4 linked regions of the Homo sapiens genome follow. The protein of the gene in region 3 purifies or fractionates together with the protein of the main gene of each other region. This does not show direct contact. Each region holds a gene or a part of one and is shown on either strand. Other genes may lie near its edges.

Evidence for each region.
Region 1: the proteins of TSPAN12 (region 3) and NDP purify together in Homo sapiens (co-immunoprecipitation; one study listed by IntAct). This does not show direct contact.
Region 2: the proteins of TSPAN12 (region 3) and ITGA3 purify together in Homo sapiens (co-immunoprecipitation; one study listed by IntAct). This does not show direct contact.
Region 4: the proteins of TSPAN12 (region 3) and ANPEP purify together in Homo sapiens (co-immunoprecipitation; one study listed by IntAct). This does not show direct contact.

The regions. Positions count from the first base shown.
Region 1 is NC_000023.11:43,949,140-43,957,199, forward strand, and holds part of NDP (norrin precursor), read right to left. Parts: intron 5,410-8,060; exon of another isoform or gene 5,377-5,409; intron 4,264-5,376; exon of another isoform or gene 4,180-4,263; intron 942-4,179; exon of another isoform or gene 888-941; coding exon 660-887; 3' UTR 1-659. UniProt on the Homo sapiens protein: Activates the canonical Wnt signaling pathway through FZD4 and LRP5 coreceptor.
Region 2 is NC_000017.11:50,073,110-50,076,609, reverse strand, and holds part of ITGA3 (integrin alpha-3 preproprotein), read right to left. Parts: intron 2,695-3,500; coding exon 2,606-2,694; intron 2,467-2,605; coding exon 2,330-2,466; intron 2,163-2,329; coding exon 2,076-2,162; intron 1,152-2,075; coding exon 1,084-1,151; intron 1,012-1,083; coding exon 875-1,011; intron 285-874; coding exon 135-284; intron 27-134; coding exon 1-26.
Region 3 is NC_000007.14:120,831,696-120,839,755, forward strand, and holds part of TSPAN12 (tetraspanin-12), read right to left. Parts: intron 7,218-8,060; coding exon 7,082-7,217; intron 1-7,081. UniProt on the Homo sapiens protein: Regulator of cell surface receptor signal transduction. Plays a central role in retinal vascularization by regulating norrin (NDP) signal transduction.
Region 4 is NC_000015.10:89,785,147-89,792,935, forward strand, and holds part of ANPEP (aminopeptidase N precursor), read right to left. Parts: intron 7,417-7,789; coding exon 7,306-7,416; intron 7,182-7,305; coding exon 7,014-7,181; intron 5,948-7,013; coding exon 5,807-5,947; intron 5,396-5,806; coding exon 5,314-5,395; intron 356-5,313; coding exon 203-355; 3' UTR 1-202. UniProt on the Homo sapiens protein: Broad specificity aminopeptidase which plays a role in the final digestion of peptides generated from hydrolysis of proteins by gastric and pancreatic proteases.

The sequences.
Region 1 (8,060 bases), on a different chromosome or scaffold from region 3:
ACAAATTCTTTATGCTGCTTTTACTTTCAAAAAGTCATTTCTGAATAATAATTATAGCTGTCAAGAGTTCCAGCATCACATAAAAGAATCTGTTTGTTAGTTATTTTAATGTCAGTTCGCTGGCTGTGAGTAAACGTAGCTAAACATATCCACATGCTTGGTATCTGGACTTTGAAATCGGTAACCTTTAGCAGCAATGGCAACCTTAGACCAAAATGACAAGGTAAAAAAAAACATCAACAATAACAGAAGATGTCCCAGGAAAAGCTGGGCTTTTCTACTTTCCAAAGTAAATTCTTCCCCAGCGTGCACCAAACACTGACAGCCTGACACGCTTGTGTATGAGGGCCCACTTTTTCCCACTAATGCTGAATTGTTGGAAACCCAAACAGCATTGAGAGCCAAGGGGGAAAATGCCTGAATCTGAAAATGAACCAAAAGAAATTGTACCAGAGAAAGGAGATGGGAACTGCAAAGAAGTTCCCAGAGTATCTCTCTCTGTCAACAAGCATGTAGAGTCTTTATTACTAGAATATGCAGAGTCCCGGGAGAATTGTTGCATCCTTTTTTGCCTTAACTCTTTTCTTGCCAGTCTTTCCCTGGCTGGTCGAACTGCCTCTACAGTTGTCCCATCCAGAAGCCACACACAGCAGCGGGCCTCAGGAATTGCATTCCTCGCAGTGACAGGAGAGGATGTACCGGTAGGTGGCAGTGAGTCGCATGCCCCCTGAGCATCGCAGCCGCAGTGCCTTCAGCTTGGAAGTCTGGGGCCGGCAGCAGTGACAGGAGGAACGGAAGGGTTGCTTGAGGACAGTGCTGAACGACACCAAAGGCTCGGAGCGTGACGCCTGGCTGCAGTGCCCCTCGCACCTGGCCAGGAGCACCATCTGGGGAAAGAAAAGGAGGTGGTTACTCTGTGGGCATGCCACAACCTTAGCCAGGTAAAACAGCATCTTTTGAAAGACCCTCACACTCGTTGCCAATTCCTGCTAGATTAGACCAGTGGCTCAATGCATGTTGCATTTTTTTTAAGTCAACACCCAGGCCTCATTCAGATCGATTGAATTAAAATCCTTGGAGATAGGGACCAGGCTTTCATGGTTTTCAAAGCTTCTTAGGTGATTTCTAAGTGTACTGAGGGTTTAGAACCACTGAATGACGCCCATCACTGTGATGTGCGAGTAAAAACCAAAGAACAAAAGAAATTTCTCCTGACAGGTAGTGGTCTACCACTGGCCCAATGCATTGCAATTCTACCAGTAGCAAAATGCAGAAAGTCAATCCAAATTGAAACCAAGAAGTAAATTAAAATGACTACCAAAAAAAAAAAAAAAAAAAAGAAATTGATTTGTGCAGGAAATAGCTAAAGAACAGGAATATAGTTTCTGAATAAGAAAATAGGATAGCCTGAGTAATGCTTAGGAAGAAATATTCTGGGTGCTGCAATTTGGGACAAGAGAATGAAGTAGAGACAGGGCATGTCTGGGGCCCTGAAATCACACTTCTGGGTTTATATGTTGAAGGAGCCTGGGATTTATGTAATTGCATCCGCATCTTCAGAGTCATTTGCGGCAAATATTAGGATGTACCCATTCTGATAATCTCTATTTCCAAAGATTGGGCTGGAATAACGGAGGCTATGTGTTCTTTATAGTAGCTCTTAATCTGGCTTTAGCAAACAGACACCTTTAAGAATCTGATGAAAACTACCAAAGTTATCCCCAGAAAAATGTACATAAGCACACACACAATTTGCATACAGCTTAACGGAATGGAAAAAAGGATCATTTATGTATCCCATACAAAACTCCTGGTATCCTGGGAGTGGGAGTAATAGGTGGGTAGGGTGGGACAGCTTGACTCATTAAGCTGCATAATCCTAATATCAAGGTGGGGAGGGGAATGGAGAATCTGAGATTATTGGTCCCATGGTTATGTAAGAGGTTTTGCTTGGTGAATTTCATGTTAAGTGATGGAGAAAAAAATCCCCTGGGCCAGGTGTATTGTCTCATGCCTATAATCCCAACACTTTGGAGTCTGAGGCAGGAGGATCACTTGACCCCAGGAGTTTGAGACCAGCCTGGGCAACATAGCATGACCGTGTCTCTAAAAAAAAAAATAAAAAGTTAACCAGGCGTGGTGATGTGCACCTGTAGTCCCAGCTACTTTGGCAGCTGAGGCAGGAGGATCACTTGAACCCAGGAATTAGAGGCTGCAGGAAGCTATGATCAAGCCACTGTACTCCAGCATGAGTGACAGAGCAAGGCCCTGTCTCAAAAAGAAAAGAAAAGAAAAGAAAAATTTGTCCTATAATTCCAGAACCAACAGCAAGATCATAAAAAGTGAAACTGTTCAAATGAAAGATTAAAAGATACATATATATGCATGAAACCTTTTGACGTTTACCTTACAATATTGTAGGAATTCGCAGTTATTATTAAAGACTCACCAGCTATTATCTCTGACATCATCCTGTAGGGCAGAATTAAACACCCAAGGTTTACAAGAAAAAAATAGCCAGTCCATCTTTCCAAAAGGGAGAAAAGATGAATTCTGGTAATTATAGATTATTGGCATAGTTATCTGAGAATATACTGGGGCTAAATCCAACAATCACTTAGCAACCACCAAGGCAATATGAAATACTAGAAAAAAAAAACAGCAGGGCTTAGGGAAGAATAAGTTGGACTAGACCAGTGAATTTATTTTCTCTGAATGATCGCAGAGGCAGAGAGAAAATAGCAGCTGTAAGCTGTTTTGATTTTTTTAAAGCTTTTGATTCTATCCTACCTGCTCTTCATTTTGACAGGCAAAGTAAACTATCAGAAATGATTGTTTGTTTGTTTTGTTTTGTTTTTAGAGACAGAGTCTTGCTATGTTGTCCAGGCTGCAGTGCAGTGGTTATTCACAGGCATGATCATAGCACACTACAGCCTTAAACTCCTGAGCTCAAGGGATCCTCCTGCCTCAGCCTCCTGTGTAGCCAGGACTACAGGCATGTACCACTGTGCCTGGCTCTGAAATGGGTTTTGAGAGACTATGCCATAGGTCAGTAGTACACAGGCTAGTCCCTAATTCCCACCCCCATTTCTCTAATGAGAGAGAGAGTCCAAGATCTTCCTTAGTCTGTTCTCCCCCCATCTCCCTGTATGTGGGAAGAGCTGCTTGATACCTCACCTTGGAGTAGTGTTAAATTTGCTAATCTCTCATCTAGATCATCTATTAGGTTGACTAAGCAGTTATTCACAGAGTCACCTTCCGTGATGGAGTCTTCAGAGGTGCAGTTTCAGTCTGGGTGGACAAAGTAAATCTGTGCCAACGAACTTAACTCAGAAGGGCCAACAATGATATGGGACATAATATCCAAGTGATGTATACACAGGTGAACCAAACGTAGGCCTAACTGACTGGGCCATTAGCACTGTCCATAAAATGACCAAGTCAACAGCGTAGGGCCATTTGTAAATGAGCTCATCTGATTGCAATCTCACTAAAAGTTTTCAGGATGTCCAGCTCCACCCCCAGCCCACTCTGAAGGACAAGAACTCCAGGCACTGAAGGACGTGGGGCCACCTCCAATGGGCTGGGCCCCTCTTCCTTGGGAGCTGGACTGTTTGTGCAAGAAGAATGCACAGACATGTACAATAAATGCCTTCAGTAGTTCAGAATAAAATCCAAAATCTTGAAGAGGAGTCAAGGCCCTTCATGACCCAGGTTTCACATGTATTTCCAGTCTTACTTACAACTATTCTCATCACTCTACTACCCACTCCCTACTCCAGTCAAACTTAACTACTTAGGAGTCCAAGAAAGTGCCCTGAATTCTCCTGCCTCTTGCCTTTGCTTATGTCTTCTGTCTCCCAAATATGTCCTTTCCACCTTGCTCTGCCTAATAAAATCCCACCTATCTATTCTCTGTAGCCAAATTCAAATGCTCTTTCCTGGAAGAAAAGACTATGAAGCAATTATTGAACCATTGATGTTCTCAACACACACACACACACACACACACACACACACTCCTAGAAGGAAATCTATCTCTGTTTTGTGTGTTGAAGTGGTAAAGCAGAAGTTTGAAAGATAAGATCCTTAAGGGATGGAAGGAATAACCATCTGCTCTCCTGGTTTACTCTCAATACTTCACATTTTAGCTTCTGCCATGCCTTACTTGTGTTTCAGCACTTGAACATCTCCTGATCTCTTCCGGATCAGAGCTTCTCAGACTGGAATGTGCGTGTGAATCATCTAGGATCTTGTTAAAAGGCAAGTTCTGATTGAGTAGTTCTGGCCTAGAGCCTGAGATTCTGCATTTCCCATCAGATTCCAGTTGATGTCAGTCCTACTGGGCTGGTGCCCACACTTTGAGTAGCAGGTCTCTGGACCCATTCAAGTTTGAGGGCTGTGCTCTAGATGAATCACTAGATAACCATCATTTCGCTAATAAGAACATTTATTGAGCACTTGCAATGTGAGTTATTTCATCCTTACAACAACCCTACAAGAAAGTACTGTTATGATCTACACTATTAGGACAGATAAGGAAACTCAAGCTTTAGAGAGTTCCAGTAACTTGCCCAAACTCACATAGGTGGTAAAATGCAGAGCTGGAATCAAACCAAGGTCTATCTGAAACCAAAGCCCTGACCTAAACCAGTATAATACCTGCCTCCTGATACCATGTTTTCCTCAAGCATATGCCAACTCACAGACTTCCTTATCTACATTGATTTGCCTCAGAAACCCCTGACCATATCCATAGACATACAAGTCTAACTTTTTCTTGTGGGCTTCTTGGGACATTAGCTTCACCATCCCCAAGCTTATGCAGAGCTGAATCTTCCAAGAGCCTTGACTGACCAGATGTCACCATTAGCATCAGAATAAAGACCCACCTGTCCCACCCTAGAAGAGCATTTTTGCGATTTTACTCCGACAGAGTGGAAAAGTATTTTGCCTTTTTCGCAGCAGTGAACACTATGCACCCTTATTTCCATGGCACCTCTTGAAACACCCTCTATAACCTCAGGAACAAGATTCACCCATGCTTCTTCTCCCATTCTTTCCCCACGGGCAGCCTCATAACTCCGCTCATCTTCAGGGACCCAGGTCAACCTCCAAAAGATCTGTGCTAGGCTGAGGGCACCAAGAAAATTGCAACCAGGGAACAAAGCAGCAGAGAGATGGTGGGGGCTTTGAAAGGGTGGATGGGAACTCAGCTCACTCCAACTAGAAACTGGTCCCTTCACTCCGGTCATGAATCAAACAGATACAAACTGATCTTTGTGCACAGAACACCCCTCCTCCCTCTCTCCCCATTTTCTTGTAAGCATCATGAAGGCAAAAAAATTGTCTCTTTTTTCTTTCTTTCCACTTTAGAGTCTCCAGCACCTTCCACAGCACCTGGACATGGTAGGCACTCAGTATAAATTTGTTCCTTTTAAAAAAATCAAATTATATCTCTCAAGAAGTCTATTGTATTATAAACACAATTTTCCTGACTCCCTCCATTTCTCCTATCACACCATGAGCTTGGTGGGTAGCAGTAGAAGATGGCTTGGGGGTCCTGTTAGGAAGCTGTTAGGACTCAGCCCTTAGCATACCAGGTCCTCTTTTCCTAGGTTTTGTCTCCCAAACCTCTTCCTCCTTATCCTTTGTTGTTGCTCTTCCAGTTCCCCACCTGCTCCTGTGGCCCTTACCGGTTCAGATAGTCATGCCCTGGTTCCATGCCCTGGCCTGGGGCCAGCATCCCCCACTCCTCACCCAACTGAGACTTTCCAGGTCTTCCCTGCCAGTTTGCTTTCCCACCCTCCATTCCTGAAATCCCCTCCCTGGCCCAAGTCCAAAACTCATCCCCCTCCAGCCCCTCCTTCCTCCACTCATCTGGGAAGGAAGGTTAGACAGATATCGGGGCTGTTTCTCTTTTACTTTTATCCTCCCTGTTAGCACCCAGCACAGTGGCTTACATTTACTTTGCTCTTCTGCCCCACCCTGTGCTTAACAAGAACTACAATAAGGTTCATTTTCCTAATCTTTTAAGGCTATAGGAGATCCCAGCAGTTATTGAGATCTCAGTTGTGACTGAAATAGAAAATTGAGTCTAAACACCTGCTTAGTTTATAACTTTATCATCAAGATCATAATATCTTCTATTAAATGGCTATTATGTGCTGGACACCGCTGGATGCTTTACAAATCACCAACACCCATACCCATACCCTCAGGTAGACAGCTCTATTTTGCATGGGAAGAAACTGAGGCACAAAGAAGGAAGTTACTGAACTTCCTCAAAGTCACTCATTCGGCAAGCCATGGAGCTGGAATTGGAAACCAGGTCTCTCTCACTTCAAAGCCTGGCATGCCTCAGTTCTCATAGAGATTCCACCAGGCAGTCTGTTTCCACTATCAACTGGTCTTTTGCCTGTTTGCTCTACAGCCTTTACTCCAAATTTTAGAGAAACTTAGTCTTCCATGAAGATTATAAATGAACCTGCTACTCCCAGGATCTTTTGTACCCAAACCCAGGAGGTGCCACCACTTAAAACTATCAGGCACATCCTAATCTGTGGCCACACTGTCCTCTTTGGTGGGCCACTGTGGCCAGTCTTTTCTGCCTGACTCCCTCTCAGTCCTTTCCGGAATTGCTAGGAGATGGGCAGCAGGGACCTAGGACTGGCCAGCTGCAAGTTCAGGGCTGGGATGAACAGTCTCATTGAAAGCTCCCAGAAAGGCTTTCACTATTATTTATTTTTTCTAGAAACATTGCTGAGTATAAATTATTACTGCCAGCAGATCAGAAGCAGAGCCTGAACTTCTATGTGATGGCTCCTACATTCTACTTGTGTTCCTCCAATATGAAGATCCAAGTAGTGGGAAGATGAATGCTGTAAGGCAGACATTGCCACTCCCTGGCTATATGATATCAAGCAATCTAATTATTTTGGGCTTCAGTTTTCCTTACCAGGATAATGGGAATAATAATGCCTGCCATCACAGGTTTCTTGGCAATGATTATAATATACAATATGAGGTGCCTGACACATATATTAGGTGTTCAAGCAGGTACACTCCCTTCCCTGAGCCTGGGTCACATTCTCCCTTTCTTGCCTTTACAAGGCCAGATAATGGATAAATGTGAGTCAGAAAGCATTAACAATTGGCAGGCAAACAGTAGGCACATGTTTAATAAATAATGACCCTTGAACATGATGTCAAGGGATAATTTTTATAGAGACAAAAAAATCTATCCCAGTCTTTTCTTTGTAAAAAGAAGCTAGGGTAGATTGTTGTTGCCTCTTTTCTAGACATAGGCTAAATGTTTTATCCAAGTCTCTAAAGGCAAACAATTTCATTAAGTGAGACCCATTAGAGAAAAGATCAGCCCGAGAATGTAAGAGTTAAGAATTATAGAACATTTCCAAATGAAAACAGTTTTGCTCCTGGATACATAGAGAAAAATCTAACCTAGAAAAGGTCTGGGTAGTTGAGATTTTGCCAGGCATATTTTATGGCCAGGGAAGAAAGGTTTATAATTGCAAGCACCATTTACATAAAACTATTGCTATATTTGGGATAGTTTGGGATGTTTGAAAACAGATTGTTCCCATGAAATTACAAACATTTCTCCTGCTATCACAATTTTGCGCTGTTATTTGCCATGGCTTTCTGGAAGAAACAAAGGTGAATAACAGTACACTAAAGTCTGTTTCTAAGACTCATGCTCAGAATTCACATGTGAATTTCTTCGGTTTGAGTTCATGATGTCTCTTCTTTGACCTTCGCTAGATTAATGTGATTGTTGCCAAAGTACTCCTCCATCATTTTGTCCAGTCTTTCCAGATTGTTTTCTAGTTTTTATAGATGCTCCTATTTCTTTGTTCCTTTCTATCATCATAGTGACACTTTCTTTGAAATAATTTTAATTCCTTTTTTTAAAAAAGAATCACGATTATGGAGGACAACTCAATACGGAAAGAAATTATCCATGGAATAAAATCACTAAATATTCATGCTGTCTGTTTCTGAAGGGGGAGGGAAGGAGAAACTAATAATTGCTGCAGTCA
Region 2 (3,500 bases), on a different chromosome or scaffold from region 3:
GGCCCGCACTCCTTCTGGAACTGGACCTGGGGGGTGGCCGGAGGTGTGAAGGCCGCACCACCCCCCCCAGTGCCCTCTCGCCCCACCGCCCTTCTGGCCCCTGGTCTTCCAGTCCAGGCGCCAGCCCCACTCACCTCAGTGTGGTTCTCCAGAGCCTGTGCCTGGTTGAGGATCGGGTAGGCGTCCAGGGACCGCAGCCCCAGCCGGGGGCGATCGGGCATCCGCAAAGGTAAAGAGTAGTTCATGGAGATGATGATGGGGCGGAGTTTGTCACGGAGGTTGTCCTGGGGAGAGAGGGTGAGCTGAGCCCGGCCCTGCACTGCTCCCTGCCCCAGCTGAATCCTCACACCACCCTGAACCCCAGAGAAGAGCTGGACCCGCCCCCCACCCTGAAAACCTGACAGTTAGGCTGAACTCCCTCCAGTCCGGTCGCCAAATTGCGACTTCCTACTATCCTGACCCTCCAAGAGGAGAGACAGGGCTTCTCCTCCTCAAAAGTCCCTTCACCTCCCCATCCACAGGGTCTCCAGGTTGAGCTCTCCCCTTCCACCCTGATGTCCCAGAGAGGGACTGACCTTGCTCCCTACTCAGGGACCCCTTTTCCCAGAGGTGGGCTGAGCCAAGAGCTCCCACACTCCTCACTTTCCTTGGAGGTAATAAGCCCTTTGGCCCCATCCCCACCCCAAGGGTCTCCATCACTCCTCATGTGTGGGTGCTGTACACTGTACTCCTACACACCAATAGCCTTCCAAACCGATGTCCCCAACCTCTGTCTCTGGGGAGACCCCCGTCCCTCACCCTTGATCTAGGGGGACACTGGCCACCTCCTCCAGGGACCTGGGAGCCCTCATCCTGACCCTTGCTCCTCCCTCACCATCAGGAGCAGCTCCAGCTTCTGGCAGCGCATCTCGGGCATGGAGAAGAAGCCGTGGAAGACAGCGGACTCACTGCCGGCAAAGCGGAGCCGGGGCGGCCGGCGGTCCCTGTCAGCCTCCAGAGTGTAGGCCAGGGCTACAGGTAGACAGGGTGGTCAGCAAGGGGACAGGGGAGCGTACCCCTTTTACGCTGCACCCCAGCACTCACTGATGTTTCGCCTGTAGTTGGGGTTCCCGGCACTCTGGTTGTAAGCAAAGCACAGCTCCACTTGCACACTGTTGGAGGGATGTACAGGAGGGCGGGTCACAGTGGGACACACACGTCCAGGCCCTAGCTCTCGCCTCTGTACTGGGCAAAAGGAAACCGAGGCCCTTCTGGAGAGAGGCAGGGACAAAACTGGGGAGTCCACAAAGCAGGTCTGTGGTGTCCCTGACCCCTTCCCTTCCACTCCCCTTAAAGCCAAAGAGAACAGGGTTAGAGGTCACTAATGGGGAAACTGAGGCCTAGGGCCCAGAAGGACTTGTCTGAAGTCCTCAGTCAGTTGGTGGCCCAGCCCAGTCTTGAACCTAGGTCGGCCAATCCCCAGTCCAGGTCTCCTTGCACCAACCACCCCATTTCCCTGCTCTGTCTGCCTTTGTCTTCTGATCCAAAATCCTCATTCACTTAAAGACCTTGGGGTCATCGCCATCATTACTGTCACTTTCTTAGCAACTAACATTTTTTGAGCACTTAGGGTATACACAGTGCTGTGCTAAGGACTTTCTGTATATTTTCTCATTTAATTATCACAACAACCCTGTGAATCAGTTATTATCAATTCTGTTCTACAAGCAAGAAATCTGAGCCTAAGAGGGATTAATAATTCACCTGAGGAGACTCTCCTCCATATCCATCCACTTAAATGCGTCCCCCTTTCCAGAGCCCATCCCCACCCCTGCACTGGCATAGCTGGGATTTGAACCAGGCCGTCCAGAGCTCCCACCTTGAACCACTATACTCTACTGCCCCCGACTTCATCCATTACCTCTTACAAGGAATTTTGCTTTTTAATGAGGTTGGGTAGAGAGGGCAAATGCTGGCCCCAAGAATCAAATTTCTAAAGGTGGGATGTCAGGAGGCCAGGGGAGGGGTTTGGGAGCTGCAGCCCCTCCTAGCCTCCCTATAAATAAATGAGGAGTAGGTGGGCAGAACAATCTCACCAAGAGGTGGCCGTGCAAAGTGCAGGGTCCAGCACAGCTGGCCTGGGCACCAAGGTCTTGTGGACGATGTTGATGACGGGCCGGGCCCTGCAGAGACAACAGAGCCAGACAGATATCAGTGCCTCCTGCCTGCCCCAGGCCAGAGTTGGGGCCCAGGCTTCCAAGGAGCTAGCGCAAACATGGACACAGATGGGAATCTGTGCAGACAAAGATGAAGAAGAGAAAGACCCTTATTCACTGGCCTCCTGGCTCACCGCAGCAGCACAATGTGGTCTGACAGGCTTCCCACTAGAAGGTCTGGGTAGAAGTTCTCATCCACATCCATCTGCCCACTGAGGGAATAGCCGAAGGTGGCCAACCCAGGCAGTCCCAGCTTCTCTCCATGGATTACCTGGGGGCAGGGGAAAGTGGTGGGGGCAGGCTCTGGGGAGCAGGGCCCAGGGGGCTACAGGGAAGGGTTGGGTGAAGGAAAGCAAGGAAGGCCCATCTCGGCTGGTGGGGGCAGCAGACCCATCCCCGTCTCTCTGTACCTGCTGGGGCTGTCTAAGGAGCCCCTTAGAGCTACTGTGATAGATGTACACTTTGCCCAAGCCTTCAAACGGAGCTCCCACAGCAATATCTGCAGAAGAAAAGGCAAGACAGGGTCACCCAGGTACTCTGGGCCCCACGTCTCCCTAACTCTTTGCTCCAGGCCATACAGCCCAGCACAGAACTGATCTTGGCCTGATTGATGGGCAGGGCTCAGAGCATCAGGGACAGAGCAGAGCTCTGCAGCTCAGGATGAACACTGGGACCATCTGGAGCCCAGCTTCCTCCTATCACGGGTGGGAAAGTAGGTTCAGGAGATGACAAGTGACTCTACCAGACAGTTGTCAAGCATTCAGTGTGTGTGCGTGTGTGCGTGTGTGTGTGTGTGTGTGTGTGTGTGTGTGTGTGTGTGTTTATAGACAGTGTCTCGCTCTGTGACCCAGGCTGGAGTGCAGTGGCACAGTCATAGCTCACTGCAGCCTCAACCTCCTGGACTGAAGGGATCCTCCCACCTCAGCCTCCCAAGTAGCTGGGACAGGCACACACCAACACACCCAGCTATTCATTTAATTTTCACGAGAGTGCTGTGGGGTGGGTACTATTATCCCCCCACTTTATAGATGAGGAGACACTCCAAAAACCCAGAGTTGTACAACTAATGAGTGTAGAAAAGAGAAAATTTGAGCCCAGGGCTGTCTCACAGCAGGGGCTGGGATTTTAACCACAACACTACAGTGAACTTCACTGAAAGTGTCAAGGCTTTTTACATTCTAATCATTATCTCCACAAATAACCCCCAAGTATTTGGTTATCTTCTTAAACTGAACTCTTTCCAGTTTGCAGCTTTGGATCAGATAAGGCCTAGGGAATCAGCAAGCCAAGCTTGTTAGTAAGGCC
Region 3 (8,060 bases):
AGATAGTAGAAATAACTTTTAGTGACCTATTGCATAGCATGGTGACTATAGAGTGATGTATAAGTGTATATTTAATAATGATAAGTTGTATATTTCAAAATTGCTAAAATAGTAAACTTTAAATGTTCTCACCACAAAAAATAAGTGGATGCAGTGGATATGTTAATTAGCTTCATCTAAGAATCCCACCGTGTATACATACATCATTGAAACATCAAATTGTACCCCATAAATATATACAATTATTATTGATAATTACAAATAAAAAATTTTAAATTATAACTTCTAAAGAATTCTAGCTAACAAGTCAAATAAAGTACATGTATTGAGTAGATATGTTTCTATTATATAAAAAAGTACAAATGCTGAATAATTTTTCATTTCCTGATGTCAAGCAATACAAACATTACTATCATGTAATGCTTTATCCATAATTCTACCTCAGCAAGGTTTACTGATTTCAGCCACCTTCCTCCAGTCCCTAAGTCTTACTTAGTTCATACCCTTATCCATGGCTTCTGGGGATGATAATGTAATCACTAACAGGGCTTTCTATTGTCTCCCGCTTAAATGTGAATTATCATTTCATCACAAGCTGGAAACACGCATTGGTTCTTTACAGCCCAAAGAATAACATCTAACTTTTTGATAAAGACCTTCACAATTGGACTTAACTTCATTTTCTTCTCACTGTGCACCAACACCACAGCCACTCTGACTTTCTAAGTTTTGCCTAAGCTTACCCTGTCCCTTCACTCCTCAGTGTTTATACACACTCTTCATGTTGCTGTAAATCTTCTTCCTTCCTCGTCTCCACCGGCAAACCCTTATGTATTTTTCAACATCCAGTTCAAATAAAGACTCCCCTGTGAAACATTCTGGAAATCTCCATTTGCTCCTGATTCTGGGTTCCCACAGCAATTATTTATAAATTTAATGTTATATTTTGCTTTGTAATTTTCTTTCTATTCACCCCTTTCATCTTTGTTCTCTCAAGTAACTATCATGGATGGGTACTCAATACACAATTAAGGAGGGCAAAAGGAAAGGAAAGAGGAATGAGAGGTGAGGAAGGTAAAAAGGAAAGGAGAAACTGCTTGATTCTTTGACAAGATAAGCAAAAATGATAACTACAGTAGAAATTTTAAAGTTCATTTTATAATAAGCATACCAAAAGACCATATTTTTAGAAATTAAATGACTACCGAATGCCTTGGAGTGATAAATGAAGCATAGTTAAAGTCTTCTAGAAACAATGCCAGTAATTAGTTAAATGCCTTATAACAGTACTGTGGTGTAGTGAAACCTGCATGGTCTTTCAGCACAGGCTGCATTTGAATGCTAACAACTACCAGCTGTGTATCTTTGGGGATTCTACTTTTCCTCATTTGTAAAATTAGTCTAATAGAGTTGCTGTGAGTATATTTTGAGAAAACAAAGGTAAAATATTGGGCAGATACTGAACATACGGTAAATAATATGATGAATCTTCATTTAGAAATAAAGTTTAGGCTATCAACCAAAAATATAAACAAAATAATAAAGACATACAACTTAATAGGTTAATTTTAACTTAAGGACTTATGACTAGCTATATAATCATAAAATTCATGACTATGTAAGAGAAGGCCTTAAACAGAGACTTTTTAGAAAATCAATTACTACTTAAATATATTCTGATTTGCATTATGATTTTAAACAACAAACAAACAAACAAACAAAAAAAAAACAAGGGGAAATTTCTCCAAGGCCATTAAAATTTCATTTGATTTCCACTAAGGAAAACATTCAGATCTGGTTCAATCACTCTATATTTAAAGAAAGTTTTAAAAGTGCAAGCACACAATCAATAGTTATATTCAAAGTCTCTGGAAAAATAAAATTGGAAAAAAAAGCACTTCTCCTTTTAAAATGATTCATTTGTATTAAATACGTAAGGTACATCCAACTTAATTTCTGACAAGCACTTGACTGCTTGTGGTTTGCTGGCAGTTGAGCATATATTTGCATCACATCCTGACAAATGATGATCTCCTGATGGTGACATTCAGCTGTTGTCAACATCATAAACATGTCTGTTCAATCTGTTTACATTCCCCCTGAGCTGGCACTGCTTTCCTAATGCCTATGTTAATAGCAAGGTAGAACTGCAATAACAAATGAATTTCATTTCGTCTACAGCTAAAGCCTTGGGAAGTAACCATCTAAGGCTTAAAACCAATTTCAATTTAGCTTCACTTTCTCTGTTAATGGGAGAAGGAATTTCTACTACTGAAATTACCGTGAAAGGCATGGCATATTCCAGTTTCTTTTCTTAGTCATTTTTGGCTTGTTTTCCCATTATAATTAGAATTTAATTATTCTTAAACCCCTCATATAAATACATAAAAATTTCTGTTCTATGACAGTTTCACACTTGCTAAGAACAAATCTAATGAGTACGTTTGCCAGATAAAGCAAATAAAAATACCTATGTCCATTTAAATTTAAATTTCAATGAATAATGTTTTAGTATATGTATATTCTAAACATTGCATGGGATATACTCATACTAAAACATTATTTATTGTTTATCTGAAATCAAATTTAATTGGGCATCTTCTATTTTATTTGGGAACCTTAAATTAGGGTGCTTTAACAACTTACATCTATAAATCTATCATTCAAAAGAAGGATGAAATTCATGACCAAGGTTTCTCAGAAATGTTTTCCAATAGGTGGCCTCTTAGCTTGTAGAGGTTTTCTGTTGCTTTTTGATGAGGGCTGCAGGGAGGCTGGTTATAAAGACCTGTTTTGAGGAAGGCTCATTTACTTTTTCTTGATCAGTCTGTTGAATAATGGCATTTTTACTTTTGCTTGAACAGCAAAACAGCCCAGTTGCCAGCTCTTTTTTATATATATATAATCATTCAAGAGATATGGCAGCTCTCTGAGATACCAATTGTCTTTTGAAAAATAGCTTTCTCACACTAATCTGTTTTACAGCTCTTAAAAGTAAAACAAGACTTTGAATACAGGGAAATGGACAAGTTGGATGAATGTATTCTGCTTGTTTAAATATTTACATCCAAAATAAAAGTAAGAAACTTCCTTAAAAAATTGTTTTTAATTAGGATAAAAGGTTAAAGGGCACACAAAAAATACTGTAAGTTACTTTGCAAATATTTGCCCAAGACCTTACATCATGTCGCATTCTGCACTATTTTACCGCCCACCCCTCCATGAGCCATTCCCCTTGTAATCTAACCTTTTCTAACAGTCAAATTCCTCTGTTAAAATCTCACTCTCATCACTGCCTTCCAGGCAACATCTTTAATCTGATGTGCTGGTCATTCCTACTTTCACTATTCTAATTCACTGTCTGTTATTCAATGATTTAATAAACACTTATTAAAGCAATGAGCAAGGTGAATGGTTCATATTACTGAAGTTGTTTGTAGTCTGGTAGTCTGGGCTGATTATTAAAAAGAAAAGGAAGTTTATAATAAGAGAAATACACTAGGCTTCAAAAGTTGGGAAAAGTCTATTAGAGACATCAGTAAAGGCCCAGTGAGAATGGGCTTTGCAATCAGGAACGCCGAGGTCTGAATCCAAGCTCCCAGCCTTATTGCCGAATGACTTGTGGCATATTACTGACCTCTCTGAACCTCATTTAATAATTACCTATCTCAGATAATTGTCGTCAGGTTTAAAATGAAAATGTTTTATACATTACAGGACACATTTGTAAACACTTAGGAAAAAAATCAGCTATTATAGAGTAAAATGGCAAAATTGTTACAAATATTGGAACTAGACTGCCATGGCCTGAATATTAGATCCTCTCTTTACTAGCTGTGTAGACTTAGGCAACTCACTTAATCTCTCTATGCCTCATTTCCTCATCTATATTAAGTGAATAATAAGGGTAATTCAAAGTTTTAGTCCAATTTTATACTCAGCAGAGAGGATAAAATTGATTAACTCATGTACAAGAACTCTTCATTTAAAAAAAATTCAGGTAAAACTCTACAGTGTCTGGCACTGTAAGTACTCAAGAAATGTTAACTACTTCAATTATCATCAGTGTCATAATTATCATTTGAAGAGGTAGCATTTCAGATAAGTCTTCATGGGCTAGTAATATTTAAATGAAAGTACTGAGAAGAAATTTCTGGCTAAGAAGACAGCAAGAATAAATGTAGAGAAGAACGGAGCAAGAAAGTTTGTTCAGGGGTCAGAAAATACAGAACCAGAGAATAATGAAGTAGATAAAAAAGCAAAAAATGGCAGATCAAGTCTCCATTGTAGAAGGGCTTGGTGTACATTTGAGGTGTTGGTACATACTTCATTACCCAATAGGGAGTCTCTGCACCTGTCTGAGCAGGAAGTTAGGAAAGCCTGAACTTGGGCATCCCAGAGGAGGACAGAAAAGAGAGGACAACTTCCCATGACTGTAGAATCTGAACTGAGAGGAATAGGCAGCTATTTAGAGGAGTGGGATGTGGGGAGGAAGCCAGAGAGGAGAGCCTGAGAAACAGACCAGATGCAAATTGGTTGTGAGTGATAGATACATGGTAGTTGAGACCACAGATCATTCTTTAGCAAGAAGGAAGCTGTGTTAGGTCTAGACAGAGTAAGGACTAGAAGCCTGCCATGAGAGGAGAGGCACCCCAAAGGGAATGGAGAACGAACAGCCAAAGGCAATCAACAGGAAGGAGGAACCAAGATGTAGATGTCACCTAGGGACACATGGAACAGCAATGCATAAAAAGATGCTTTGTAAAAAAGAGTACATCCAAAAAGCAAAGTAGAGATGGAAAAAAGCAAAATCAATCTATGCTCATCATCTTCCCAGAGGGTGGCACTGAACCCTTCGGGCTGAGCTCAGAGTTCTTCCTCTCTGGCCTCAATAGCACCCAGTGCAAACCCTATTAGAGGTCTTATCTCATAAAGACAGGTCTGATAGCAAAAATTGGTGGTATACATGATCAGTAAGTATTTGGAGAATGAATGAATGAGTAAATTAGTGGCCTTTAGAACCTCAGTCATCCCTGCCACTTTTGCATTATAATGCTCTTGCCAGTATTACAAACTAGACTCTCATTCACAAGTTTAAGATTTGCTCTACTTCAAGTAGCAGGCCACATTACTTTGTTGTTTGTCAATTTGCATTACTAGCATCTAAGCAGCCTAAGGGAATGCATAAAGAGTTTTCAAAATGTGTTTCCAAAGCCTTTGTGGTTCCATGAAATACCTGACCCTACTTGCCCTGCCTCCCTCCAGCATCCCACTGCATAGGGACTGTGCAGAGTAAAAGTTGGGAGGAGGGAGGAAATGGCAGTCAGACCTTAATTGGTTATGCAAGAGAGACATCATTGTAAGACTGCGTTTTAAAAAAGAATTCTGAGACTCTTTATTTAAAACTTGAAATATGTTATACTCTACTCAAATTATAGAAGGTTCATGTAAAGTAAGTCCTTTTGTTTATGTTTAAATTATTGCCCAAATATCTAAAATTGCAAAATAAGATCCCAAATTTCCACCATTCTCCCTTTCACTATATACCTATATGAAGAGAAATAAAGCAGTAGGCATGTTTCCCCATCTCTGAGTGTGGTTTATTTTATTCATTTATTTATTTTTTTTTTTTTTGAGATGGAGTCTTGCTCTGTCGCCCAGGCTGGAGTGCAGTGACGTGATCTCGGCTCACTGCAACCTCCGCCTCCCGGGTTCACACCATTCTCCTGCCTCAGCCTCCCGAGTAGCTGGGACTACAGGTGCCCGCCAACATGCCCGGCTAATTTTTTTGTATTTTTAGTAGAGACAGGGTTTCACCGTGTTAGCCAGGATGGTCTTGATTTCTTGACCTCGTGATCTGCCTGCCTCGGCCTCCCAAAGTGCTGGGATTACAGGCGTGAGCCACCTTGCCCGGCCTGAGTGTGCTTTATTTTCTATAGCATTTTGTGTTTTTCAATATTCGACCTGAACAGTTACCCTCCAAGAAGCTAAGTAATACATTAACACAGGTTATACTGTGAAATTCAAAGCTTTAGTTCAACTTCACACTAAGATTCTGTTTTAATTGACTTGGCATGGGAGCCAGTCAAGCACGAGTGTGTGGGAGCTGGCTCCTTGAGCCAATTTGTACTCATCTGTCCCCAGTTCCACATTCAGTGATTTCATGTTGGTAACTTAAAATTGACCATGCTGGGAGAATTTACCCCACGGAAATCCCCAAATGCTACAAATCTGAGCTTTTTTTCTGCCCAGTGATCCAGCTTACCAGCACACCACTCAAATTGTTTAAGTTCTTTATATGAAATTAATACACAGCCAGGGCTGAGACCTACTATAAAAAAAGCGTATACTCAATGAATTAATTTTTCAGCCTTATATGTCTGCAACTATATGTTAGTAATCTCATTACCTGGTGCCACTAGTATATATTTTGCACATTAAGTGCTCTTCTAAAAATATCTATATAAACAGTATTTTAATCAACTCAATTTTTTAATGTTAAAAATGTTTGCCTACTTTTGAATTAAAAGACTAGTCACAGAATTTGAATGGTGAAACTAATTTAAAAAGTACCTAGTGCAACTCTCAGAGTTAAAAAAACAACAACCAAGATTATAGAAACTGAGACTCGCTTATGTTCTCTAAACTATATAAAGGCAGTGACAGGACCATTACATACGTCTGCTACCTCACAACCTGAATTTCCATAGGAGCTTACAGGGTGGATTTGTTTAAAAATAGAAGAGAAAGAAACAGTTCCTTTATGGCTTCTCAGTTCCAGTCCCAAGGGGCCTTTTTGAGTGCTAATAACTACAAGGACACTAGAAAGAACTCATACTTTCAAATGAAAATGTCAACACGTAGCTGGAGTGAAATAATTAAATTGCTTATATATATTTCCATACCTCATCCGGTACAGCAAATATGTGTATTCAAATAATCTCTTGTGAAACGAAAGCGTCCCTTCTTACAGGATGTTGTTACTGCTATCACTGCTCCCTAATCTTGTGAACTGATTAAAAAATAATATATTACTGGTTAATCTTTTTAACTATAATAAAGAGAAAATATAACATCATACCCATGCAAGAAGCAACAGATTTCTTTTCACCGTTCCACAATATCCTAACATCCCCACAATGATAAGGAAACAGCAAACAGCAATCATGACCGGATGAACCACAGGAAAGTAAGTCAAAATGACTGCTTCCTCTACCCTGAAAGAAGAAAAATAATGTATTAGAAAGAAAATATAATCAAAATGCACCCAAGACATAGCAGAAGACACAACTGTGATTTGTGTTAATAATTCTTTCAATCATGATGCCTCAAAACTAGTGACTGCATTGTTATTTTCAAAATCACTGTGCTATTGTTTTTATGTTTATTTGCTCGGTTGCTTTATTTTTGGTTTTGCAGTGTTTGTTTTTTTTAATACAAGTGGTAGCTTTCCTACCCCAACTCATTTAACATATAATATACAGGACCTTGATAAAAGGTCCATCTATTATTATCTCCGAAGCCTTAGCCTAAGTAAATCACATGGGAGCCTTTGCTATTTCCCAGCTGGGAGGAATCTCCTTCCTCTTCTCTAATTTTTGATCCCATGTGCACTACGTTTCTTCTCCCTGACAATTGATCCTCCCCCAAAATGTAAAAGACTGCTATGCAAAGGAAAATCAATCTACATTTAAAGAAAGGAATAGGTAGAAATGATTTTTGCTAGAACACGATGAAAAATTCATTAACCGAAACCAGTATTAATGATAAAAATTAACCATTATTAAGCTAACTTTCCCTGTGTTAAGGACTTGAAAAAAATGGTTTTCATTTAATCCTTACCACAATTCAGATGTCATATAATACAATCTCCATTCAGAGATGATGGAGTAAAAAGTAATTTGTCCCCTGTGATGTTAGTAGATTAACCCTTGAAATTTGAGAAAAAAAAATCATTGTGGTGTATGGTTTTCATTAACCCAAGAATATGAAGGTAAGAGGAAGCTGACGGTAATTTTCTTAGGGAAAAGTAACTATGCTGGTTCTTTACACGCACCTAT
Region 4 (7,789 bases), on a different chromosome or scaffold from region 3:
AGGGGCTGGGAGGTGCTCAGGCAGCCTGGGTCATCAGGAACTAGACTGGCTCACAGGCAGAGAGAACGTGGGCTGGAGACTTTGTCCTTGAGGGGAGGACACTGGTGCCTCGGGCTCCAGGAATGGAGGCCCTGCACCAGCCGCTGGGATGGACACATGTGGGCACCTTGCATGGGGGCCGGGTGACTTCAAGGGCTGGGGACTATTTGCTGTTTTCTGTGAACCACTGGAGCACCACCTCCTTGTTCTCCTTCACCCACTTGATGTTGGCTTTCGTCTTCTCCAGGGCTTGCTCCAGGGCCCGGGTGCCTGAGCCGAAGCCTGTTTCCTCGTTGTCCTTCTTGAACTGCTCCAGCTGCCAGAAAAACAAAAGATTCTCAGTCCGGCTGGGTCCCTAACAGCCTTGAGGAGGAGCTCTCTCAGGCCTCTGGCTTTCCACTCCCACTTTAGAGTCCCCATGGATGGGACCACACCCTGTTCCAGGGATAGGCAGGACGTCCACCTTGCTCCCGGGCAAAGTCCTTGTGAACACAGAGGTTGCAAAATGACAATCCCAGGCAAAACCTGGCTCAGGGAGATTCTGGCCTTCAGGTGTAATATTTTATTATAATATCAATCCAATCAAGAGAGTAGAGAGGGGCTAATGAAGCAACCAGCCAAATCTAAAATGTGGAAATTTCTATACCACAAATGATCCAGTTGCTTCAGTAAATAAATGGGTTTAAAAAAAAAATACTCCTACAAATTAGAAGAGTTATCAGTCCTGGAGGTTCTAGCCAGGCAATCAGCCAAGAGAATGAAATGAAAGGAATCCAGAAAGGAAGAAGTAAAACTATGTGTATGACATGTTTGCATACATAAAAATTTTAAGGAATCCATTAAAAAATCTATTAGAACTAATGATTTCTGCAAGGTTGCAGGATACAAGAGCAATACACAAATATCAATTGTATTCCCATACATTAGCAATGAAAAACCTGAAAATGAAATTAAGAAAACAATTCCATTTACGATAGCATCAACAAGAATAAAATATTTAGGAATAAATTTGACAAAATAAGTGCAAGACTGGAATGCCAAAAACTACAAAACATTTTTGAAAGAAATTAAAGAACACCTAAGTAAAAAGAAAAAAGACCCAAATAAATCTGTGTCCATGGACTGGAAGATTTAGCATCATTAAGATGGCAATAGTCCCCATATTGCTCTAGAGATTCAATCCCATCAAAATTTTAACTACTTTTTTTTTTTTTTTTTTGCGGAAATTGATCAGTGATCCTAAAATGCATAAGAAATTGCAAGGGACCCAGAATAGCCAAAACAATATTGAAAAAGAACACAGTTGGCCAGCCTGGGCAAGATGGTGAAACCCTGTCTCTGCAGAAAAATACAGAACATTAGCCGGGCATGGTGGCATGTGCCTATAGTCCCAACTACTCAGGAGGTTGAGGTGGGGGGATCACCTGAGCCTGGGAAGTTGAGGCTGCAGTGAGCTGTGATCTCACCACTGTACTCCAGCCTGGGTGACAGAGTGAGACCCTTTCTCAAAAAAAAAAAAAGCAAATTGGAGGACTCACACTTCCCAATTTTAAAACTCACTACAAAACTATAGTAATCAGGACAGTATGGTACAGGCATAAGGATGCAAATATAGATGAATGAAATAGAATTGAGAATCCAAAAACAAACCCTTATATTTACCGTCAATTGATTTTCAACTAGGTTGCCAAGACCATTCAGTGGGAGAAGAACAGTCTTTTCAACAAATGGGACTTGGACAACCGGATATCCACATGCAAAAGGAATGAAGTTGGACCCCAACCTCATATCATATACAAATATTAAGTCAAAATAGATCAAATGCCTACGTTTGAGTGAAAACATAATAAAACTCTTTTTTTTTTTTTTTTTTTTTTTGAGGCAGAGTCTTGCTCTGTCATCCAGGCTAGAGTGCAGTGGTGCGATCTCAGCTCACTGCAAACTCCGCCTCCCGGGTTCAAGCAATTCTCCTGCCTCAGCCTCCCGAGTAGCTGGGATTACAGGCGCCCGCCACTGCATCCAGCTAATTTTCGTATTTTTTAGTAGGGACGGGGTTTCACCATCTTGGCCAGGCTGGTCTTGAACTCCTGACCTCATGATCCACCTGCCTTGGCCTCCCAAAGTGCTGGGATTACAGGCGTGAGCCGCCATGCCTGGCCAATAAAACTCTTAGAAAAAACATCGTCAGGTCTTTTGTGGGTTTGAAAAATTTTTTTGAAATAAAAAAATAGGTATAAATCTTCATGACCTTGGGTTAGACAATACTTTCTTAGATATGATACATAAAGTATAAGCAACCAAAGGGAAAAAAAACAGATAAATAGGATTTCATCAAGATTTAAAATTTTGGGTATCAAAAGACCTATTAAGTGAGTGAAAAGACAGTCCATAGAATGGGAGAAATACTTGCAAACCCTATCTCTGATTAAGGGTCTAATATTCAGAATATATAAAGAACTCTTACAATAAAAAGACAACCCAATTTTAAAATAGCAAAAGACTGGGCACAGTGGCACATGCCTGTAATCCAAGCTACTCAGAAGGCTGAAGTGGGAGGGTTGCTTGAGCCCAGGAATTTAAGGACAACCTAGGCAACATAGTAAGACCCTCTCTCGAAAAGAAAAATAGTCAGTTTTACCCATTTCTCCAAAGATACACAAATGTGTATAAGGCCAATAAGCACATGAAATATTCAACATCATGTCATTCATTACTCATTAGGGAGATATAACTGAAAACCATAATGATACCACTTCCTACCCACTAGATGACTATACTAAAAAAAGAGGGAAAGAGAGATAAGTGTAGACATGGAGCAATTAGAACCCTCATGTGATACACTGCTAATAGGAATGGACAATGGTACAGTTGCTTTGGAAAACATTTTGTCAGTTTCTCAAAAAGTTAAACACAGAGTAACCAAATGACCCAGCAATTCCGCTCCTAGGTGTATACCCAAGATAAATTAAAACATGTTTGTACAAAATTTGCACGTGAAGGTCCATGATATTCATCACAGCCAGAAGACTGAAACAACCCAAATGCCCATCAATGATGAGCTGAAAACAAAATGTGGTACATCCATGTAATGGACCATTATTCAGCCATAAAAAAGAATGATCCCTGCTACCGTATGCATGAATCTTGAAAACATTACACTAAGTGAAAGAAGGCAGACAGACACAAAAAGGCTGTGTGTATATGATTCCATTTTATGAAACATCCAGAATAGGTAATAAATCCATAGAGACAGAAAGTATATTAGTGGTTGCCAGGGGCTGAGGGGACCAGGTAGGAATAAGGAGTGACTGCTAATGAGTACAAGGTTTTTTTTTGGCGTAATAAAAATGTTCTGGAATTAGACAGTAGTGATGGTTGTACCACATGGTTTTTTTCTGTTTGTTTGTTTGGTTTGGTTTGGTTTTGGTTTTTTGAGACAGGGTCTTGCTCTGTCACCCAGGCTGGAATGCGGTGGCACCACCTCCGCTCACTGCAACCTCTGCCTTCCTGGTTCAAGCGATCCTCTCACCTCAGTCTCCTGAGTAGCTAGGACTACAGGTATGCACCACCATGCCCAGCTTATTTATTTATTTATTTATTTATTTATTTATTTATTTAGAGATGAGATCTTATGATATTGCCCAGGCTGGTCTCAAACTCCTGGGTTCAAGGGATCCTCCTGCGTTGGCCTCCCAAAGTGCTGGGATTACAGGCATGAAGCACCCCACCCACCCTACCTTGTTAGTTTACTGAAAACCACTTAAAATGGTGAGTTTGATGGTCCATGAATTATATATCAATTTTTTTTTTTTGAGACAGAGTCTCACTCTGTCGCCCAAGCTGGAGTGCAGTGGCACAATCTTGGTTCACTGCAACCTCCGCCTCCTGGATTCAGGCAATTATTCTGCCACAGCCTCCCGAGTAGCTGGGACTACAGGCACCCCCCACCACACCCAGCTAATTTTTGTATTTTTAGTAGAGACAGGGTTTCACCATGTTGGCCACGCTGGTCTGGAACTCCCGACCTCAGGTGATCCACCCACCTTAGCCTCCTAAAGTGCTGGGACTACAGGTGTGAGCCACCACGCCCAGCAAATTATATCTCAATTTTTAAAAAAGACAAACTAACTTAATCCAAGTTGACTTTGTCAAGCTTCTAATTCAAGCATATATATCAATTGTAAAAAGACCTTTTATAAACAACTTAGAAAATTTGAATATGCCTTGGGTATATGATAGTAAGAAGATAATCATTTTCCTGGGTTTGCTAAGGACAGTGTGATTATGTTTTAAGAATCCCTTTATTGCTGGGCGCAGTGGCTCACACCTGTAATCTCAGCACTTTGGGAGACCGAGGTGGGTGGATCACTTGAGGTCAGGAGTTCGAGACCAGCCTGGCCAACATGGTGAAACCTCGTCTCTACTAAAAATACAAAAATTAGCCGGGTGTGGGGGCGCATGCCTGTAATCCCAGCTACTCGGGAAGCTGAGGCAGGAGAATTGATTGAACCCCAGAGGCAGAGGTTGCAGTGAGCCGAGATCATACCACTGCACCACTCCAGCCTGCATGACAGAGCGAGACTCAGTCTCAAAAAAAAAAAAAAGCTGGACGCCGTGGCTCACGCCTGTAATCCCAGCACTTTGGGAGGCCGAGGCAGGCAGATCATGAGGTCAGGAGATCGAGACCATGGTGAAACCCCATCTCTACTAAAAATACAAAAAAATTAGCCAGGCGCGGTGGCGGGCACTTGTAGTCCCAGCTACTCAGGAAGCTGAGGCAGGAGAATGACGTGAACCCGGGAGGCGGAGCTTGCAGTGAGCCCAGATCGCACCACTGCACTCCAGCCTGGGTGACAGAGCAAGACTCCATCTCAAAAAAAAAATAAAAAATAAAAAAAATAAAAGAATGCGTTTATTTTTCATATGACTAAATTATTTAGAGGTAAAATTACATGATCAGTGATTTGCTTAAAAATTGCCCGCCCGGAAAAAGTACTGGCAAAATGTTGATAATTGTTGAACCTGGGTAACGGGTACATGGAGGTTCATTATACCACTCTTCCCTTTTGTGCCTATACAAAAATCCCAAGATGAATTTTTTAAATTGAATTATCAACATTTCCAAAGTCTGGCTACTCGGCTTCCTCTGTAAATGAGGAAGGCCTGGCGGCGTGGAGCCTGTGCTCCCTCAGGGCCACGTGGGAGAAGAATGGAGTGCCCCTTTGGCCTGGGAAGGAAGTAGGCAGAGCCCAGGTCTGGGGAATGACTTCTTACCTGCTGCAGCTCATACTCGGTGGAGAATCGTCGTGTCACTGCCTGGATGAGGTTGGAGAAGGAGAACGAGCCACCACCATAACTGCAGGGAGGGAGAGAGGTGAACTGTGAGGGAGGCCGGGAACTAAGGAGGCTCATCCTCACACCTACTGGGTAGGGAGCCATGATTATAGAGGAGATGAAATGACACGCCCTGGGAGACCCCACTAGGATGTGGGGGAGTCACAGCTTGAACACAGGTCTGACTGCCGAGTTCCTCACTCCCCTCTCTTCTGGAGAATACGCCCACACGCCACGTTTTCCTTCCAAATGGGAAAAGGGACGGCCCATACCCCAGCTTGTCTTTCCATTCCTGCCCCACCCTAGCCCCCAGGCTTGGCTGATTTTTGTCCACTTCTGGTTAGTGCCCCCGGCGTGTCTTACCCGCACAGGCCACCCCCCGGGGCCCCAGCCTCGGCGCTCGCTGTCCCTGACACCCATTCCACAGACTCACTCGTTAAAAAGCTTCTTCCAGTTGCTCTGGACAAAGTCCCAGACCAGACCTTGCCCAATGACGTTGTTGGTAATGCTGATGATGGTAGAGGTGGCGTCCTGCTTCCGGATTAAGTCCGGGTTCAGGGTGTAGCTCAGGTACCTAAGAGGGCCAGATGCTGTCTCAGCTACTGCTAATTCAGGTGACTCAGGAGAGAACTTGGACTGTCCCACGCACATCACCTATGCCTGCATCCTCTCAACATCCCCTCGGCCTGCCAGGGGCTGAGGGACCCCTTGGTCCTTCTTCCCTCTATAGATGGAAAACTGAGTCACCTAAGCAGGGTCACAGGGTCACTGGCTAAGCTAGTGTCATGCCTGACATAGAAATATTTGACAATGAATCAATGAAGGAAGGAGTCCTAGCGCCCCAAGCCCTGGCACCAGGTGGGTGGTCACTCCCGTCTTTGACACTGAGGGTGGCCCTTCTTTTCTTTTCTTTTCTTTTCTCTTTTCTTTTCTTTCGAGACGGAGTCTCACTCTGTCGCCCAGGCTGGAGTGCAGTGGAGCGATTTGGGCTTACTGTAACCTTCGCCTGCCAGGTTCAAGTGATTCTCCTGCCTCAGCCTCCCGGGTAGCTGGGATTACAGGCATGTGCCACCATGCCTATTTTTTTTTTTTTTTTGTATTTTTAGTATTTTTAGTAGAGACGGGGTTTCTCCATGTTGGCCAGGCTGGTCTCGAACTCCTGACCTCAGGTGATCCATCCACCTCAGTCTTCCAAAGTGCTGGGATTACAGGTATGAGCCACCACACCCTGCCCAAGGGTGGCTCTTCTTTACTGCATCCAGGTAATGGCATATGAGGCACATGGTGGGAGGTGGGGACCCTCATCCAAGGGCTTGAGGGGGTGCCCAGCTGGATGTTTGAAAAGACCCAGGTCCAGCTACACCAGAGCCTTTGACAGAAGGGAAGACGAGTTGTTGTCAGGTAAAGGCTAAGAGGCCACAGCAGCTAGGAACAGAGGACATGGACCCAGACCTGAGTCCATATCTTGTCTCTATCACTTATTAAAGCTTCCAGTCTGCACCGGTTACTTTGGAAATACTGCCTCCACCTCAACAGGTCTGTGGGGGTCACGTGAAGGATCTGGCGAGGAGTGTGGAGGCCTGCCTGGTTCTCCAGGTGGGGAGAGGGCTCTCGCAGTCCCACCCTGCGCCAAGACTCACCTGTTCAGGATCCACAACTCTTTGCTGCAGGCCAGGGCTGCCCGGAGCTTGTCAGCCTCATTGACCAGTGTGGCATTTCGGAACTGCTCCCAGGCGAAGTCCCACTCCTCCTCCCCGCCCTGGGCGATAGCGTTGCAGTAGACGGTGGACCGCAGGTTGGGGTGGATCCTGGTGTGGGGTAGGGAGGTCAGGTGTGGAACAGCAGCGGGGAGGGTGGGACAGGGTTCTGCTGAGGACGGGGCTGTTGGGGGCAGATGAAGACTGGCAGAGGAGGCGCAGGGGAGACACTCACGGGTTATTATTGGGGTTCTCCATCCACTGCTTGAAAAGGCCAGAGACCATCTCCTCACACTCTGGAACTCCGTTGGAGCAGGCGGTGCTGATGGCATTAACCTCGCTGTACCTGCCCCAGGGGTGACACGCGGTTAGCACACCTGGCGAACTCCAGCCAAGATTCACCTCTTGACACACAACCCCAGGCCGGCACCCTGCCTAAGGCTCTGTGGCCTAACTGGCCCTCTGACCCCCGCTGTATGTGCTTTGTGCCTTGGGCCTGAGGTTCCTTGGTCCCCAAAGCAGCCCTGTGACCCAGAAGGGCAGGAACAGGCTCCAGCCCCAGTTTCAACACCTAGAAACTGTATAACCTCAAGCCAGTGGGGTGAGCTAGAGTTTCAGTTTGGGTCTTTGTATAAAGAGGTCCGATGGGCCCTCAGGCCACATGGAGCCTCAGGGCAGGACCTCCCTGCTCCTGGGTGGGGGTCTCTCCCTGCCTGGTG